4 separate regions of the Homo sapiens genome follow, and all the other regions are reported to be linked to region 2. Evidence: microRNA targets listed by miRTarBase, many of them from high-throughput screens and not tested one by one. Region 2 holds a microRNA gene; each other region holds the end of a gene's coding sequence.
The links. The annotated mature microRNA hsa-miR-664b-3p reads UUCAUUUGCCUCCCAGCCUACA and lies in region 2 at 2,031-2,052, shown strand. An mRNA with a match to its seed (bases 2 to 7 or 8) in the 3' UTR can be bound and repressed. Matches are read on the target gene's strand: a 7mer-m8 pairs with bases 2 to 8, a 7mer-A1 pairs with bases 2 to 7 and ends in A, and an 8mer does both.

Region 1: the mRNA of PLEK is a reported target of hsa-miR-664b-3p. Seed matches in the 3' UTR shown: 7mer-A1 at 3,302-3,308 and 7mer-A1 at 3,016-3,022.
Region 3: the mRNA of MED21 is a reported target of hsa-miR-664b-3p. Seed matches in the 3' UTR shown: 7mer-m8 at 2,180-2,186.
Region 4: miRTarBase lists OLIG3 as a target of hsa-miR-664b-3p. Seed matches in the 3' UTR shown: 7mer-A1 at 1,237-1,243 and 7mer-A1 at 1,348-1,354.

The regions. Positions count from the first base shown.
Region 1 is chr2:68,395,411-68,399,410 of GRCh38, reverse strand. It overlaps PLEK (pleckstrin), which reads right to left. Exons shown (of 9, transcript NM_002664.3): 9 at 1,958-3,731. The coding sequence ends at 3,595. Among named protein-coding and RNA genes, the nearest start is that of PLEK, 32 kb to the right of the region's middle.
Region 2 is chrX:154,766,605-154,770,753 of GRCh38, forward strand. MIR664B (microRNA 664b) reads left to right here and starts at 1,992; the gene lies at 1,992-2,052. DKC1 (dyskerin pseudouridine synthase 1) reads left to right here. Exons shown (of 15, transcript NM_001363.5): 6 at 393-457; 7 at 652-778; 8 at 1,698-1,828; 9 at 2,563-2,706. SNORA36A (small nucleolar RNA, H/ACA box 36A) reads left to right here and starts at 1,924; the gene lies at 1,924-2,055.
Region 3 is chr12:27,028,069-27,032,068 of GRCh38, reverse strand. It overlaps MED21 (mediator complex subunit 21), which reads right to left. Exons shown (of 4, transcript NM_004264.5): 4 at 1,396-3,784. The coding sequence ends at 3,608. Among named protein-coding and RNA genes, the nearest start is that of MED21, 7.5 kb to the right of the region's middle.
Region 4 is chr6:137,489,944-137,493,943 of GRCh38, reverse strand. It overlaps OLIG3 (oligodendrocyte transcription factor 3), which reads left to right. Exons shown (of 1, transcript NM_175747.2): 1 at 1-1,745. The coding sequence ends at 592. Among named protein-coding and RNA genes, the nearest start is that of OLIG3, 2.4 kb to the left of the region's middle. RefSeq lists an enhancer at 141-640.

The DNA.
Region 1 (4,000 bases), not on the chromosome of region 2:
AAGGAAATAACAGAGGACACAAACAAATGGAAGAACATTCCATGCTCATGGATAGGAAGAATTGATATCATGAAAATGGCCATACTGCCCAAAGTAATTTATAGATTCAATGCTATCCCCATCAAGCTACCACCGACTTTCTTCACAGAATTGGAAAAACTACTTTAAATTTCATATGGAACCAAAAAAGAGCCTGCATAGCCAAGACAATCCTAAGCAAAAAGAACAAAGCTGGAGGCATCACACTACCTGACTTCAAACTGTGCTACAAGGCTACAGTAACCAAAACAGCATGGTACTGTTACTGAAGCAGATATATAGACCAACGGAACAGAATAGAGGCCTCAGAAATAATGCCACACATCTACAACCATCTGATCTTTGACAAACCTGACAAAAACAAGCAATGGGAAAAGGATTCCCTATTTTATAAATGGTGCTGGGCAAACTGACTAGCCATAGGCAAAAAGCTGAAACTGGATCCCTTCCTTACATCTTATACAAAAATTAACTCAAGATGGATTAAACACTTAAACATAAGACATAAAACCATAGAAACCCTAGAAGAAAACCTAGGCAATACCATTCAGGACATAGGCATGGGCTAAGACTTCATGACTAAAACACCAAAAGCAATGGCAACAGAAGCCAAAATAGACAAATGGGATCTAATTAAACTAAGGAGCTTCTGCACAGCAAAAGAAACTATCATCAGAGTGAACAGGCAACCTACAGATGGGGAGAAAATTTTTGCAATCTATCTATCTGACAAAGGGCTAATATCCAAAATCTACAAAGAACGTAAACAAATTTACAAGAAAAAAAACAACAACCCCATCAAAAAATGGGTGAAGGACATGAACAGACACTTCTCAAAAGAAGACATTTATGCAGCCAACAAACTTATGAAAAAATGCGCATCATCACTGGTTATTAGAGAAACACAAATCAAAACCACAATGTGATACCATCTCACCCCAGTTAGAATGTTGATCATTAAAAAGTCAGGAAACAACAGATGCTGGAGAGGATGTGGAGAAATAGGAATGCTTTTACACTGTTGGTGGGAGTATAAATTAGTTCAACCACTGTGGAAGACAGTGTGGTGATTCCTCATGGATGTAGAACTAGAAATACCATTTGACAAAGCAATCTTATGACTGGGTATATACCCAAGGAATTATAAATAATTCTACTATAAAGACACATGCACACATATGTTTATTGCAGCACTCTTCACAATAGCAAAGTGTTGGAACCAACCCAAATCCCCATCAATGATAGACTGGATAAAGAAAATGTGGCACATATACACCATAGAATACTATGCAGCCATAAAAAAGGATGAGTTCATGTCCTTTGCAGGAACATGGATTAAGCTGCAAACCATCATTCTCAGCAAACTAACACAAGAAGAGAAAACCAAACGCCTCATGTTCTCACTCATAAGTGGGAGTTAAACAATGAGAACACATGGACACGGGGAGGAGAAAATCACACACTGGAGCCTGTTAGGGGGTGGCGGACTGGGGGAGGGATAGCATCAGGAGAAATACCTAATGTAAATGACAAGTTGATGGGTGCAGCAAACCAACAATTCACATGTGTACCTATGTAACAAACCTGCATGTTGTGCACATGTACCCCAGAACTTAACATAAAATAAATTTTAAAAATCATAAAGCTATTGAGATGATGAAAAATAAAAGATAGTGTTACCCTTAGTAAATAAAACTGAGTTGTAAGAAAGGAGAGTTATTTGTTTGTTTGTTTGTTTTGTTTTTTTTTAGTAGAGACAGTGTTTCACCATGTTGGCCAGGCTGATCTCGAACTCCTGACCTCAAGTGATCCACCCGCCTTGGCCTCTCAAATATTGGGATTACAGGCATGAGCCACCGTGCCCGGCCAGAGGGGAGAGTTATCAATAGGAGGCAAAACAGAGTCATCACACCAAAAATGCATTAAACAGAGTCATATATTTATTTCAAAACATTAAGTTGACTTCCCATTAATAAATACTTTAACACTGAGTGTAGAAAAACTTGTGCATATTCTATAAAGATAATTTATTAAAGAATCAGAGAAAAAGACAGTTCTTTACCTCTAGGCTATTGATAAAACCATCTGGGAGTGGGAACAGCTTCAGGAATGTTACAGGGGAATTGAGGGAGGGCAAGAGAGGATTTGATAAAATGAGGAAAAATGTTCTACTCTCCTTTCTTTCCTGGAGCCTTAAAATTAAAAATCTGGAATTGAAAAATATACTTTCACACACATATCTGCTTCAATGGGTGCTGTCTTTCTCAATTTTGGAGAAGAATCACTAGTTAGTGGTCAGGGTCAAAAATTGCAAATAAGTTCCCAATTTTAGTCTAGGTTAGATCACTCTGGTTAATCATAGGGCCATGATGCCCTCAGAACTCAAGCAGGAGCTGCTGCTACTTGTGCTTAAAGCTGAGGCACGAACGCAATATCATTTACTGGAGAACTGAAGATGCTGCGCAATGCTAACAGCCCCTCTCAGAAGTTCTGTGTGGCTCTGAGTCCTTACAGTGCAGTTGTTGTATTAACCCATCATCCAGTGAGCTGGCCAGTAGTTCAGCCCCTCCACTTGCTGCAGCTGCCGCAAGACACATTCACCAGGCAGTTGCCCAGGCCTCTCACCCATGGGGGGAACACATCTGGCCACTTTTTTTTTTCTGTAAACCTCAAATGAAACAGAATCTCACAGATGTGGGGTCCCCCTCCTAATTGTAATAAACGTTAGAGAAATGCTCCAGAAAGGAACAAAGGGAGACCCTCTCAGATCAGCCTAAAACCAGAGTGGAATAGGGCTCCTCTGGGCGGTTTAAGGGCACAGAAAGGACCCTCAGCTACTCCTGGCCTCCCCAGGTCTCTTTCCCAGAAGACACAACTTTCCAGGCTGCCAAAAGTAATAGAAGTCAAAACCCTCAAAACCACCACTGCTCTCGGGAAGTTTTTGAGTAGGATGAGGAAGAAAGAAGAGAGCCCTCCTTCATTTTGTTACACGATCTCAAGGCCAAGAGCAAGTAGAAGATGTCTAAAGAGAACAAAAGAGGTTTCTTCCTGGTACTGTACTACAGATCAGCAACAGTTTCACAGGGAGGCGTTGGCTCAGGTTCTGGTACATTTGAAGATAACTGAAGGCCAAGACTTAGCCAAGGAAGGACACCAGCAGAACAACTAGATACACTATCACTACTGCGAGTGTTAGAATCATGGGGCAGATTTTTTTTTTTTTTAAGCTAGGGGGACCTCAGGAATCTACTAGTTGAATTTCTTCATTTTCCAGAAGAGGCCCTGAGGCCTGGAGAGGGCAAGCAGCCTACTGAGGCTGCACAGCTTGTTATATCTGCTTGGGGGTCATGGATAGGGGCAGAGGGGCTGCAGTGAGCAATACAATGCAGGGGAACCTTGCACACCACATGGTGAGTTACATTCAGACCCCCCTGCAAATGAAAACTTCCCACCCCTGGGCTGTTTCCCGTTGATTTGTCACAGAAGTGGACAGGTCCTGGACTGAGCTTGTCCATGGGCTTCCCTCAGGAGGGGAGGAGGAATGCAGGAGTCTCTTTACTTCCCAGTTCGGGAGGCCATCTGGATGGCTCTGATCCACTCTGTGCGCTCCTTGGGGGTGGCTGCTTGCAAGAAATAGTGCACTTCATCTGCTGTGATGATCTCAAAAAGGTTCTCTTCCTCACTCTTCCTGCCTGGGGAAAGAGAAGGCAAATGGCAGCACGCACAGGCATCAGAAAGACCACTTGCTCCACCCTCCTCTGCAAGCCATGAAATCTCTGTTTTCTTCGTGTTCTAAGGAAATTGACTATGTGGCTTTCAAACATACAAACAAGGTATGATTATAGGATAATTCATTGCACAGTTATATACATAGTATTGATAGAGTAGATACATAGTATGACTGTGTGTATATATATATTTTTAAGAAATAGGTAAAACACTTAAGGAGAAACATTTTCTT
Region 2 (4,149 bases):
ATTCATCAAGCTGACTGGATCCATTTGTCCGGGTTCAGCTCTCAGCTTGTCACTCCAGGCTTCTCACTCTGTGCTACCGCTTCTGCCTAAAGTATCCTTCGTTCATTTTTATCTGAGAAAAGCCTGCTTATCTTGCAAGGCTTTTTCCACGCAGCTTCTACACTGAGTACTCCCAACTGTCCCTGTTAGTACATTGAATTCCCAGTGAGAAAGTGTCTTCATTCTTTCCCACATCATCACCATGAAATCTCTCTTAATGCAAATTTTATAGAAACACAAGGTCAAACTGCCGCTTTTCCTGCTGTGCAAAATGGGAGTGACTGAGCATATAAGAAATATGGAAAACAGAAAACTCAGTGGCCACACCTGACTACTCTTTTGTCATTTTTCAGGCAAAGAGTATGTGGGGATTGTCCGGCTGCACAATGCTATTGAAGGGGGGACCCAGCTTTCTAGGGTAAGTCTGCAATTGTAGGGAGGACACCCTTTGTTGACTTGGATCTCTGAGCCCCTAAACATCTGGAGATGGGTTAGCTGTCCTGACTGACTCCTTTTGTCCCCTTTTCAGTCGGCTGCTGCAGCCAGCCTGGACCAGTGACTGCACATGTACATTCTGATGAGGTGTTTGTTTTCATTTGTGTTTGTTCTTAGGCCCTAGAAACTCTGACAGGTGCCTTATTCCAGCGACCCCCACTTATTGCTGCAGTAAAGAGGCAGCTCCGAGTGAGGACCATCTACGAGAGCAAAATGATTGAATACGATCCTGAAAGAAGATTAGGTGAGTCATTAGGCCTGTGAGTGGGTATGAACACATTCTTCAGGATTCTGTTCTCTTATTAAAAGTAGATGCCCTTGAAGTTGAAGACTTTCTAAAACCTGCCCTACAGCTGGGATATTGTCTGTGGGCGATAGTTTTTGTTATCTTTTGTTGAAAAAGTGAACAGTGCCTAGTAAAGTGAGATGGCTTTTACACCTTTTATGATGACTGCTTCTGCTGGAGTTGAAATGTTTTCATTCTGCATTTGTGTAGTTCGGTGCTTTGTTCAAAGGTAAGTGTTTTCACCAAAGTATGTTTTGCATGTGTTTTTTATTTGTTGCAATTTTGACTGCTTAGAAGTTTCTGTTGTCAGAAGTAAATTTAAGACAATGCCAATTTTCCTCCCATCCATGAAACATACCATGCTGAATATACCTGCAACTTAAGTGTTAAAAATTCTGCTAATATCAGAATTACAGATCTTTTTTTTTTTTTTTTTTTTTTTTTGAGACGGAGTCTCGCTCTGTCGCCCAGGCTGGAGTGCGGTGGCATGATCTCGGCTCACTGCAAACTCTGTCTCCCGGGTTCACACCATTTTCCTGCCTCAGCCTCCCAAGTAGCTGGGACTATAGGCGCCCGCCATCATGCCCGGCTAATTTTTTGTACATTTAGTAGAGACGGGGTTTCACCATGTTAGCCAGGATGGTCTTGATCTCCTGACGTCGTGATCCACCCGCCTCTGCCTCCCAAAGTGCTGGAATTACAGGCGTGAGCCACCGTGCCTGGCCAGAATTACAGATCTTTACAGCAAATGCTTATATTTTAAGAAGTGTGTCTGTCACCTCTAGTCTTGGTGGCTCAGATGAAGGATAACTGCATTTCTCAACCAGTGATGTATTTACAGTAGGTGCTGCTTTTCTTTTGTGTGTGTGTATCTTAGGAATCTTTTGGGTGAGTTGTGAGGCTGGCACCTACATTCGGACATTATGTGTGCACCTTGGTTTGTTATTGGGAGTTGGTGGTCAGATGCAGGAGCTTCGGAGGGTTCGTTCTGGAGTCATGAGTGAAAAGGTATGTGTTACGGGGCTAGAAGTTTTAGAGCTGGTTCTTACCATCTGCCAGCCTTTGATGGCACTCCACTTGCTTCATGTCGTGGGAAAGATGCTTTCCAAAGTGTTGAGTTCAGTCCAGGGCAGCTTCCCTGTTCTGTTAATTAAACTTTGGGACATTAAAATGGGCTAAGGGAGATGATTGGGTAGAAAGTATTATTCTATTCATTTGCCTCCCAGCCTACAAAAATGCCTGCTTGGGGTCTAATACTTCAACGGTTAAAGATGCCTGGAAGAGGGCGCGGTGGCTCACGCCTGTAATCCCAGCACTTTGGGAGGCCGAGGCGGGTGGATCATGAGGTCAGGAGATCGAGACCATCCTGGCTAACAAGGTGAAACCCCGTCTCTACTAAAAATACAAAAAAAATTAGCCGGGCGCGGTGGCGGGCGCCTGTAGTCCCAGCTACTCGGGAGGCTGAGGCAGGAGAATGGCGTGAACCCGGGAAGCGGAGCTTGCAGTGAGCCGAGATTGCGCCACTGCAGTCCGCAGTCCCACCTGGGCGACAGAGCGAGACTCCGTCTCAAAAAAAAAAAAAAAAAAAAAAAAAAGATGCCTGGAAGAGCCAGGACTGAAGAGGCTGAAGACATAATGAGCTTGGACTAGTAAACAAGTGACATTCAGTTTTAGGAAGTTTGGGGTCTGATGGGCTGAGATACAAATAAACTGAATTATTTTCATACATGGCTGCTTTTCAGGACCACATGGTGACAATGCATGATGTGCTTGATGCTCAGTGGCTGTATGATAACCACAAGGATGAGAGTTACCTGCGGCGAGTTGTTTACCCTTTGGAAAAGCTGTTGACATCTCATAAACGGCTGGTTATGAAAGACAGTGCAGTAAGTTCCGGGTTAGGAGTTTATATTTGGAAAGAACGTACTCCAAAGATGAGGCTTGCTCTTTTTATTGTTTTCCTTGGGTTTTATTTTATTTTTTTCAAGTCCAAACCAAGTATATTAATTTAAAGTAAAAGTTTAATGGTAGGCATACTTAAAAATAAGGCACATTAGGCCAGGCACAGTGGCTGATGCCTATAATCCTAGCACTTTGGCAGGCTGAGGCAAGAGGATCACTTGAGTCCAGGAAGGAGTTTGAGACCAGCTTGAGCCCAGGAGATCAAGGCTGTGAGCTGTGTTTTTATGATGATCAGAGAGTTGGCCTTTTATAAATTAAAACATTGTCTTTTTCTCTAACTTGAGGGATAAAAATTTCTGGATATTTAAAATGTTTGTAGTTGGTAATTATTTATATTCAAATCTTGTATAGATGTTCACATTTTTTGTATGTGTATAGGCTGTAATAAATACTGAAAGATGGCACCATAATAGTTGAAAAAACTCAGTCACAAAACAGTGGACAACATAAATGTGATGTCCTCTCCTTATCAAACCATTGGCTTCTGGGTGAATGTAAAGGGAGGGGAGAATGTGATCAAAAGAGGTCTAGGTGAGTGGAGATGGTATGAGGCAGATGGGTGCATTGGGTACCATTGAACCTCTGGAGAGGTAGCCTTAACTTGTACCCACTGACCTATAAATTCTGCACCAAGACTTTTGTGTGATTGGTTCAACAGGGCTCAGTAATCTTGTTTTCAAGTTCTTTAAGAGCCTGTTATTGCCTGGATCTCCAGTAAATCTGTTCTTTCTCCTCATAAGGAGGAGAGAGGAGTAATTAAGGAATGCCAAGGCTATTTTTATGTTTCAAATGAAAATATGGACCACGTGCGGTGGCTCACACCCATAATCCCAGCACTTTGGGAGGCCGGGCCAGGCAAATTGCTTGAGCTCAGGAGTTTGAGACCAGCCTGGGCAATATGGTGAAACCCTGTCTCTATTAAAAATACAAAAATTAGCTGGGCGTGGTGGCACGTGCCTGTAATCCCAGCTCCTTGGGAGGCTGAGAATCACTTGAACTTGGGAGATGGAGGTTGCAGTGAGCCGAGAATGTGCCACTGCACTCCACCCTGGACAACAGAGGGAGGTTCTGCCTGAAAATTAAAAAAAAAAAAAAAAAAAAAAGAAAATACTTGTGAGTCTCTAGAACCTGAAAACCTGAAAGTCTTCTTTACTACTTTTGAGTCGTGTGTAATGTGCGGAGAGTGGTACCTATAGCACAGTGAGGTGGCTCTTCTGAGTACCACTCATGCCCCTTGCAGCTAGTGGGCTATAAGTGTCATCCCTGTTTCCTGGTGTCAGGCCCCACTCCCTTGTTGTCCTCCTTTACTCTGGTGTGGGAGTGGGGTGGAGGGCAGCAGCTGGGCCCCTTACACTTGGTGCCATCTC
Region 3 (4,000 bases), not on the chromosome of region 2:
GAAAGAGGGACCAGGGAATGCAAGACACATCCGTCGTTTTTGGTCCTCTCAAAGCTGGGTACCAGGCAGTAAGGTCATTGCTGATAAATCCATTTTGGCTTTGAGAACCCCCTAATCCAACAGTCATATCCACACAGCTTTCCAAGTGGGGCCAAGGGGTACGCACGCCTTGGCTGACCTGGACTTAACTGGCACTACAATAACCTCATTTAGCAATAAGGGCTTTAGGGTGATGTGGTTAGTGTTTTCTTTATCCTCTTTCTCCTTTCATTCTTTCACTTCCCTAACTCCTCCCATATTTTGTGTAAATGCTAATTCTTCGATCAAATTCCTTATTCCTGTAATGTTTGTAGTAGCATTTTTTTTTTCATGGCTACATTCCATTGACTCTACCTCACACTGACATGTTTTGCTACCAGAAGTGGTAGCAGAGACACAGAATCTTAAGGATGGAAATCTGGAATTTGTTCTCTGATCTGACTGGATTAAAAAGCAATAATGTTTCCATTGCCAAGGTAATTGACAGTCTATGGTAAAAGTTACTTATCACTTGTAGTCACTTGGTTTGTTAACTAATGCCCAGACACAGGGTTTACTTATATTAAATCAAAGTGAAATGCCAGAATACCCTTCCTTGGTATACAGGGAATGGTATCAAGGACATAGAAATTTTGGGGTGAAATTATTATACATAACTTACTCACTCACATCCTATCTTCTCTGGAAGGATCCAGAGGACACTCTCTTCATTAAGGCTTTAAAAAAAATCATCGGCAGGAGGTACCATTCTTGAAAGGCTCTAATGGCCAATATCACAGGTCAGGAATGATAGTAAAGGATACTCCCATTGAAATTGGCTCCTGGCCGGGTGCAGTGGCTCATGCCTGTAATCCCAGCACTTTGGGAGGCTGAGGCGGGTGGATCACCTAAGGTTGGGAGTTCGAGACCAGCCTGACCAACATGGAGAAACCCCGTCTCTACTAAAAATACAAAATTAGCCAGGCATGGTGGTGCCTGCCTGTAATCCCAGCTATTCGGGAGGCTGAGGCAGGAGAATCACTTAAGCCCGAGAAGCTGAGGTTGCGGTGAGCCAAGATCGTGCCATTGCACTCCAGCCTGGACAAGAGTGAAACTCCATCTCAAAAAAAGAAATTGGCTCCTTAAATTCAATGAAGATGACGGGAGTTAGGATGTAGTTAAGGCACAAGTGGACAGATTTAGCATCCAGAAACAAAGAGAGTTTGGTTACCATAACTGGCAGCAGAGCAAGATGGTAATCAAAATGGTTTCACCCACAGAAATCTTTAGGGTTAACTGATAGTGGTGCCCCTAGAACTGAAATAGAGAAGCAGGATATTAAACTTTTCTTAACATATGAAAAAAGCAAACTGTAGGTCTAGTGAATAAAGGTCTATTTTTAATTACAAGCCACAGCTTCTTATCCAGTTTTTAGATTTAAATCAGCTTAGATCATTGACATTTAATTATTGCTGTATTAATGAAATAAAATAAAATTTAGGTTTACTATTGTTTTATTCTGTTTCTCGTTCCTGGGTTACCTGAATCTTTTTTAGTATTCCACCTTAATTTATTAATGCTTTTGAAAATAATCTGTAGTTTTTTAGGGAAAAATCTGTGTCGCTCTAGGGATGATACAAATACTTAATTTCTTATAGTCTACTGTATAGTATTAATATCTTGAGGTTAGCAGTTTGGCATTAGCCTGGGCAACAGAGTGAGACCCCATCTCTAAAAAAAAAAGAAAAAAAAAATTAGCTGGACGTGGTAGTACATGCCTGTAGTCCCAGTTACTGAAGAGGCTGAAGTGGGAGGATCACCTGAACCCAGGGTGAAGCTGCAGTGAGCCATGATCACAGAACTGCACTTCAGCTTGGGTGACAGAGACTTCACCTTAAAAAAACAGAAACAAGAACAACAAAAAAAAACTGTATATCCTCTACAGAGAATCACATACAACAACGTTAATTTTTTTCTTTCAAATAACAAATGTAATTTTTAAAACCTCAAGAGAAGTCTATTATATTTACCCTATACATTATGCCTTCTTTATTCCTGCCATTCTAAGTTTCCTTCTGCTATAACTTCCCTTCTTTTTAAAAAGCTTCCCTTGAATTCTTTTAGAGCAGGTTTACTAGTGATAAATCCTGTTAGTTTTCCCTCATTTGAAAAATGTCTTGACCTTTTCTCTTTGTACCTTTTTGACTCCTTTATAATACTTAGGTACTTTGAATAAGTTTTCTGACTGAATCTTCTCTCCCCCCAAAACTATAATGAAGAGTACAGATTTATGCCAAATATCTGATAGCAAAGTGTTTTTAATAAACATCAATTAAAATACAGTTAAAAGTTCAAAAATTTTCTATGACTAGCCAATAAATTGCTGCAACTTTTACAGCTAACGCTGGTGTTCCTGAAATTTGAAACATAGTACTTTTCAAGAACTGTGGAAAAGCTTGATTACAACAAAAATAACAGGCAGAGTGTTCTATTGTTCCTGTTTTCTCCTGAAACTTAAACTCTGAATAGCAACAGATTGCAGCAAATGTAGCTCAGCATATTCTGAAAAATACAGCCCCAGGAAATAGCTAGTTAAAATGTGGACCACATTTCAATTCCACCTTTCCAGTGGAGATTATCAGTAGACTCAAAGAGATCCAAGGGTTGGATGAATAACCATAGTTGAAAATGCTGACACAAATTATTATTTGGCAATAATAAACTGAGGTGAAATGATGCCAAGTAACTGATGTAGTGGAAGTATGTTCTGGTCTGACTAGAATACAGCAATAAAAGTTGAGAGGTTAATAAGGGCAAAAGAACCTTCAGATAAATGGAGAATGAGAAAGAATTGATGATTCAAAAAACATACTTCATTGTGATGACAAGCAAATTAAGGATGAAAAAAAGCAAGGTGAAAAGAAATAGGAAAAATAGTTCAGGATGTAGAAAAATTCTTTCACAACAGCCAGGAAATTCTCTTGACAGAGGATCTCTTGGTAAAATAAACGTGGAGATGAACTAGAACAGGTATGAGGTTCTAGCAGAAGAAACATTTGCATAAATGTGACTTTCTTATCCAGCCACACTAACTCTATTTCTTAAAAGCAACACAATTTCCAAAACTTTCTTGCTCAAAGCTCAGATTTACACAATGCCACCTCTAAGAGGCAGGACACTAGCCCAAACTAAAATGTCCCTTATGTCTGTTCTTACTGTCTTCTCCTTTGGCTTGAGAGATGTTTTGATTTGTAAAAGTACTGGCCAATACAACAAAATGGAGACATAAATTATGTCATAACAGAATTTTACATATGTTTCCTTATATTATGTTCATTAATGTATTACATGCCTTAATAATTTCACTCAGTTAAAAAATGATGGTATGATGCTTTAAAGCTGATTCAATCATGATTTTATAAGCTTATCAAGAGTGAAAATAGAAGACTATTAAAAATAGCTAAAAAGGTAATGTGTCATAGTGTTTAATGTTTCTGTAATTGTTGGTAAGGCTTGTATCTAAGTCTGATGCAGAATTCTTAATGGCACTCAAACAGTTCTTTTCTCAGCCACATGGTATCCACTGATGCTATGAGTCTGGAAGAGACTGGCTATGGGTACCACTTCTTGTCTTCAGCTGTGACTGTGCAATATCAGCAAGTGCGCTTTGTATCTTCTCCAGAAGCATGTCTCCTCGATAAACAACATCCTCCAGACATGTAGCAGCTTCATGGTTTTCTTCTTCTAGCTTATACAAGCTAGCAGCCTTTATAAGACACAAATTTTAAAATCTTTAGAGTTTAGAAAGAGAAGCTGTCACAGATGTACTTATTTTTAAATCTGGATGACTTTGCAATCATTGTGATATGTTTTTCAGTAAAGAAATTCTAAAAATCAGACAACTTTTAAGAATTTTCCCCATGTGAATTATTAAAAAGAATGACTTTTCAATTAGAGATCTCTAGATATCTTTAAGTGACTC
Region 4 (4,000 bases), not on the chromosome of region 2:
GTCGGAGCAGGACCTACAGCAGTTGAGGCTGAAGATCAACGGACGCGAACGCAAGCGGATGCACGACCTGAACCTAGCCATGGACGGGCTGCGCGAAGTCATGCCCTACGCGCATGGGCCGTCGGTGCGCAAGCTCTCCAAGATCGCCACACTCCTGCTCGCCAGAAACTACATCCTCATGCTCACCAGCTCCCTGGAGGAGATGAAGAGGCTGGTTGGCGAGATCTATGGGGGCCACCACTCGGCCTTTCACTGCGGGACCGTGGGCCACTCGGCCGGCCACCCCGCGCACGCGGCCAACTCCGTGCACCCGGTGCACCCCATCTTGGGCGGCGCGCTCTCATCTGGCAACGCCTCGTCACCGCTGTCCGCCGCCTCACTTCCCGCCATCGGCACCATCCGGCCTCCCCACTCGCTACTCAAGGCGCCCTCCACGCCGCCCGCGCTGCAGCTGGGCAGCGGCTTCCAGCACTGGGCTGGTCTGCCCTGCCCCTGCACCATCTGCCAGATGCCGCCGCCGCCGCACCTGTCCGCTCTCTCCACAGCCAACATGGCCCGGCTGTCGGCCGAGTCCAAGGACTTGCTCAAGTGAGCAGCGGGCGGGCCCGGCTGCCAAGGAGGAGGGAGAGCGGCGGGAGGGGCCGCGGTGCCGGGCCGGGAGGGAAGAGGGAGGCTGCACGCTCGGCCCACGGGAGGGCAGGCTCCGGGGCCCGCAGCCTCCCACGCTGTCTGAGAGATCTCAGACTCCACTTGACCCCCGGAGGGAAAGGACCAAAATCAAACCGCAATTTCTAGGTGGTAGCAAAGGGGGACTCGAACCAGATGTCGTGTGTTTTGCATGCATGCTTCTTTTCCCCATGCCGCGCCAGTATTTTTCACTGCCATATGCTCTTGTCAAAACTGCATTTGTTGTATAAAGATGGGATCGGTGTAGTTAAAAACTTGCGAAGGGACTTTTGAGTTGGCTTTCTCTGACTCTGTGTTCTCGCTTTGGAAAAAGACGGCCATCCCTTTTGTGCAAAACAAATGTAAATATTTTCTTGAGATGGATGCGATTATGATTGTCTCTGTCCTTGCCACAGTTTTTCTAGAGACAATGGAGAGAGAAAGAGAGAGAGAGCGCGAGAGAGATCAAGACCCAAGTTTTGAATCTCAACCGAGGTCCAGGGCATGACACCTCCTATGTGGGTTTTCCTTTCGACGCAGTGTAGGTCAAAAGAATGCATGCACGCTTCTAAATGAATCTTGTCTGAATATGTCGTGCAGGCTGTGGTGCCGTTTTCCTTGTAACAAGGATTTATTAGTGAATTATCCCAAGTACTCCATATATCTGTCTGTGGTTGTATGAAATGAAAAAAGGGGCAGAGTGCAAAGACCCACACTCACGCACACGCGCTTCTTCTCCCACCCCCACCCCCTTCAAACTTTATTCGGAACCTTCCTTTGCTGTTCTGGGGCCGCTATTGTAAAAGCCTGGGCTCCCTCTAGTAGCTTGCGCCACCCCCCCTCGCTCAGTTATTCTGCATGCGGGGTTGGCTCTCTCTATTATCAGCTTTGAAAACTTATCCTGGTTTTGGGAGGGGTGCCGTTTTTATTTTCCTGAACATTTGCTTGAAATATTTTGTTAGGGCCTCAAAGACGATACCTGTCTTTATTTTTTATATATTCTTGATAACTATGATATATTTATTAATAACCAGTGTTTCTGGATGAGATTTCAAATAAAAAAGAACCTTTAAATCGTGGCTTTGCCTTTGCCTAAAATCTTAGCAGATGGGGGTAGTGGGATAGGAAACACGTGGACCAGGTAAGGTGTATCTGGGTGAGGAATTTGGATGGGTGGGCAGATGTGAAGGTTTTCCGTGATTACGTACAAGTAAACAGGATGGGTAAATTGGTGCTGATTTTTGGAACTAAATGTCCTTCAAGCGGGCATTGCCCACATTCATAGTATTATGCTATTTGAGCTCATTTCTCTGCAGTAATCAGACCCTCATAAACTCGAGAATTGAATTTTAAAAAGTAATCTGGAAACTTAAAGTGGCAGGAAATGAGAGGTGGAGTGTCACTACGATGACTGTGTTGGCAACAAACAAGGATGAAGCAGTACGTTAACTTCTTTTCACTTTAAATTGAACTTGTGCTTTTCCCCCCATGTTAAAATCTAGTATACATTTTAAAAGTCAACAAAGAGTGGTCTTAGAAAATAGTCAAATACTCACCCTGCTTGCCTGCACCCTCGGAAGCATGGCCTACAGAGAAAGGGAAGGCTTCTCTGCTTTGTAAGGTGAGCTCCGGGTGAGTCAAACCACCACCCAAGTCTCAGAATCTTGCAGATTTATAGCGAGAATCCTCCCTTCTTTCTTCCCTTAGAAGATTGCTGGTCTGATTAGCTATATACATTGGGCATCTTCTACAAAAAAGTCAGCTAAAACGGGAGTCATTTTAATAAACTACTTTTCTCTTTTCACCTCCCGCCATAACACTTCTAAATGGTTTGTCTAAGCAGGAGTAATCCAGCAAGACAGTTTTGTCTATTTGTTTAAAGGGGACAATAAATCGAGCTGTAGTGAGGATAGCCCCAACAACACAAGCCTCCATTTCCCTCTGAAGAAAATAGAACCCTGATTGAAATGCAACACCCCAGGATTTGCTTCTGAATAAGTTGTAACATCACCTAGATGTTGGTTGAGGCCAAAGCTCCTCTCCAATGGGGGGAGGCTTGTGGTCTCTTTCTAGAATCCAGCAAGGAGAGCACGTCTAGGAAGCATTTGCGTTTGCCCTGTCTTTCCTGGGTCCCTGATGCCTACCCAGTACTGCCTCTGTCAGGCAGAGCATCTCTGTGGGTTTCTCTTCTATGCAAATCATCCCCCTCCATCCCTTTTTACCCTCCCATCGCTACCCCACTCTCAGCCAGGCGAAAGACCTAAGTTAGCATCTACAGTGGAGGGTACTTGTTTCCACTGGTTTTAGGCAGACAAATGGGGGAATAATCGTCTGTTTCCCAGGGGTGATTCATTTCTCTGGGTGAGGAAAGAGCCTATTGAAGATTTATTTGAAACCAACACAAGGCAGCCCTCCAGTCTTTCCCCAGAGTTTATTATTTAGAAAGGGGAGGGGTGGGAGAAGTTTCATCAATCAGGAAAACGACTTTCTCCTTAGCCACTTGCTTCTTTTGAGTCCTGTTTCCAAAGGCCTGGTTCTGGGGAAAGACTCAGTGCCTTACAGTTGGCCTAGTGGTGGGCCTCATGCCTTCTCTAAAACTGAGTCTTAAATTGGGTTATGCAAAGGAATAAAGCCACATTCTTTACACTAGGACAGTCGTGGATTTTGTGATTGTGCTGCTGAGACAGGAAATCCTTGATTTACAGCAGTGGTCAGTTTAAAGAGCTGTGATGTCCACTCACATAAGCTGAAAGGAAGCTTGAGCACAGGGAACTCTATTGCAAATTTTGCAACTAAAATGGGAAATAGACACCACTTCCAATATCGAGAAGATCTCTTAAGTGAGCAGAGCTCTTTTCTGGGATACAAAAATTCTTTTGGCTTCGAGACCAGAAGAGAGGATTTCTTTAAGTACAGGACAGGAACCCAGTGAGGAAGGTGATTTGAGAGCCACGTCATCTGAGGTTTCTGGATTTATTGGGAAGAAATAATCTCCATTCGCTCTCCGGGAAGGCCCTTCCCTTGATGCCTAGGCGGGTCTGCTGGGCATGTGAGTTTGCAGGCAGACTTTTACTGTCATTGCACTTCCCTTTAAATACTCGAATTATCGACGCCAGAAAAAAGATTTCATGACCGCAAAGGTGAAAATGGGTTTCGGCCGGGATTTTTTTTCGTTGTAAACTTGTCACTTTCTCGAAATTTTGCAAGTTTAGTTTTTCATTCAATCTGGAAACACCACGACGATCCTTTCATTCCAGATTAAACCCCGCCTTACGTTTAAATGGATGGCGAAATCCTCCTGGGCGGAGACACCTTGAGAAGCCCACACTAGAAA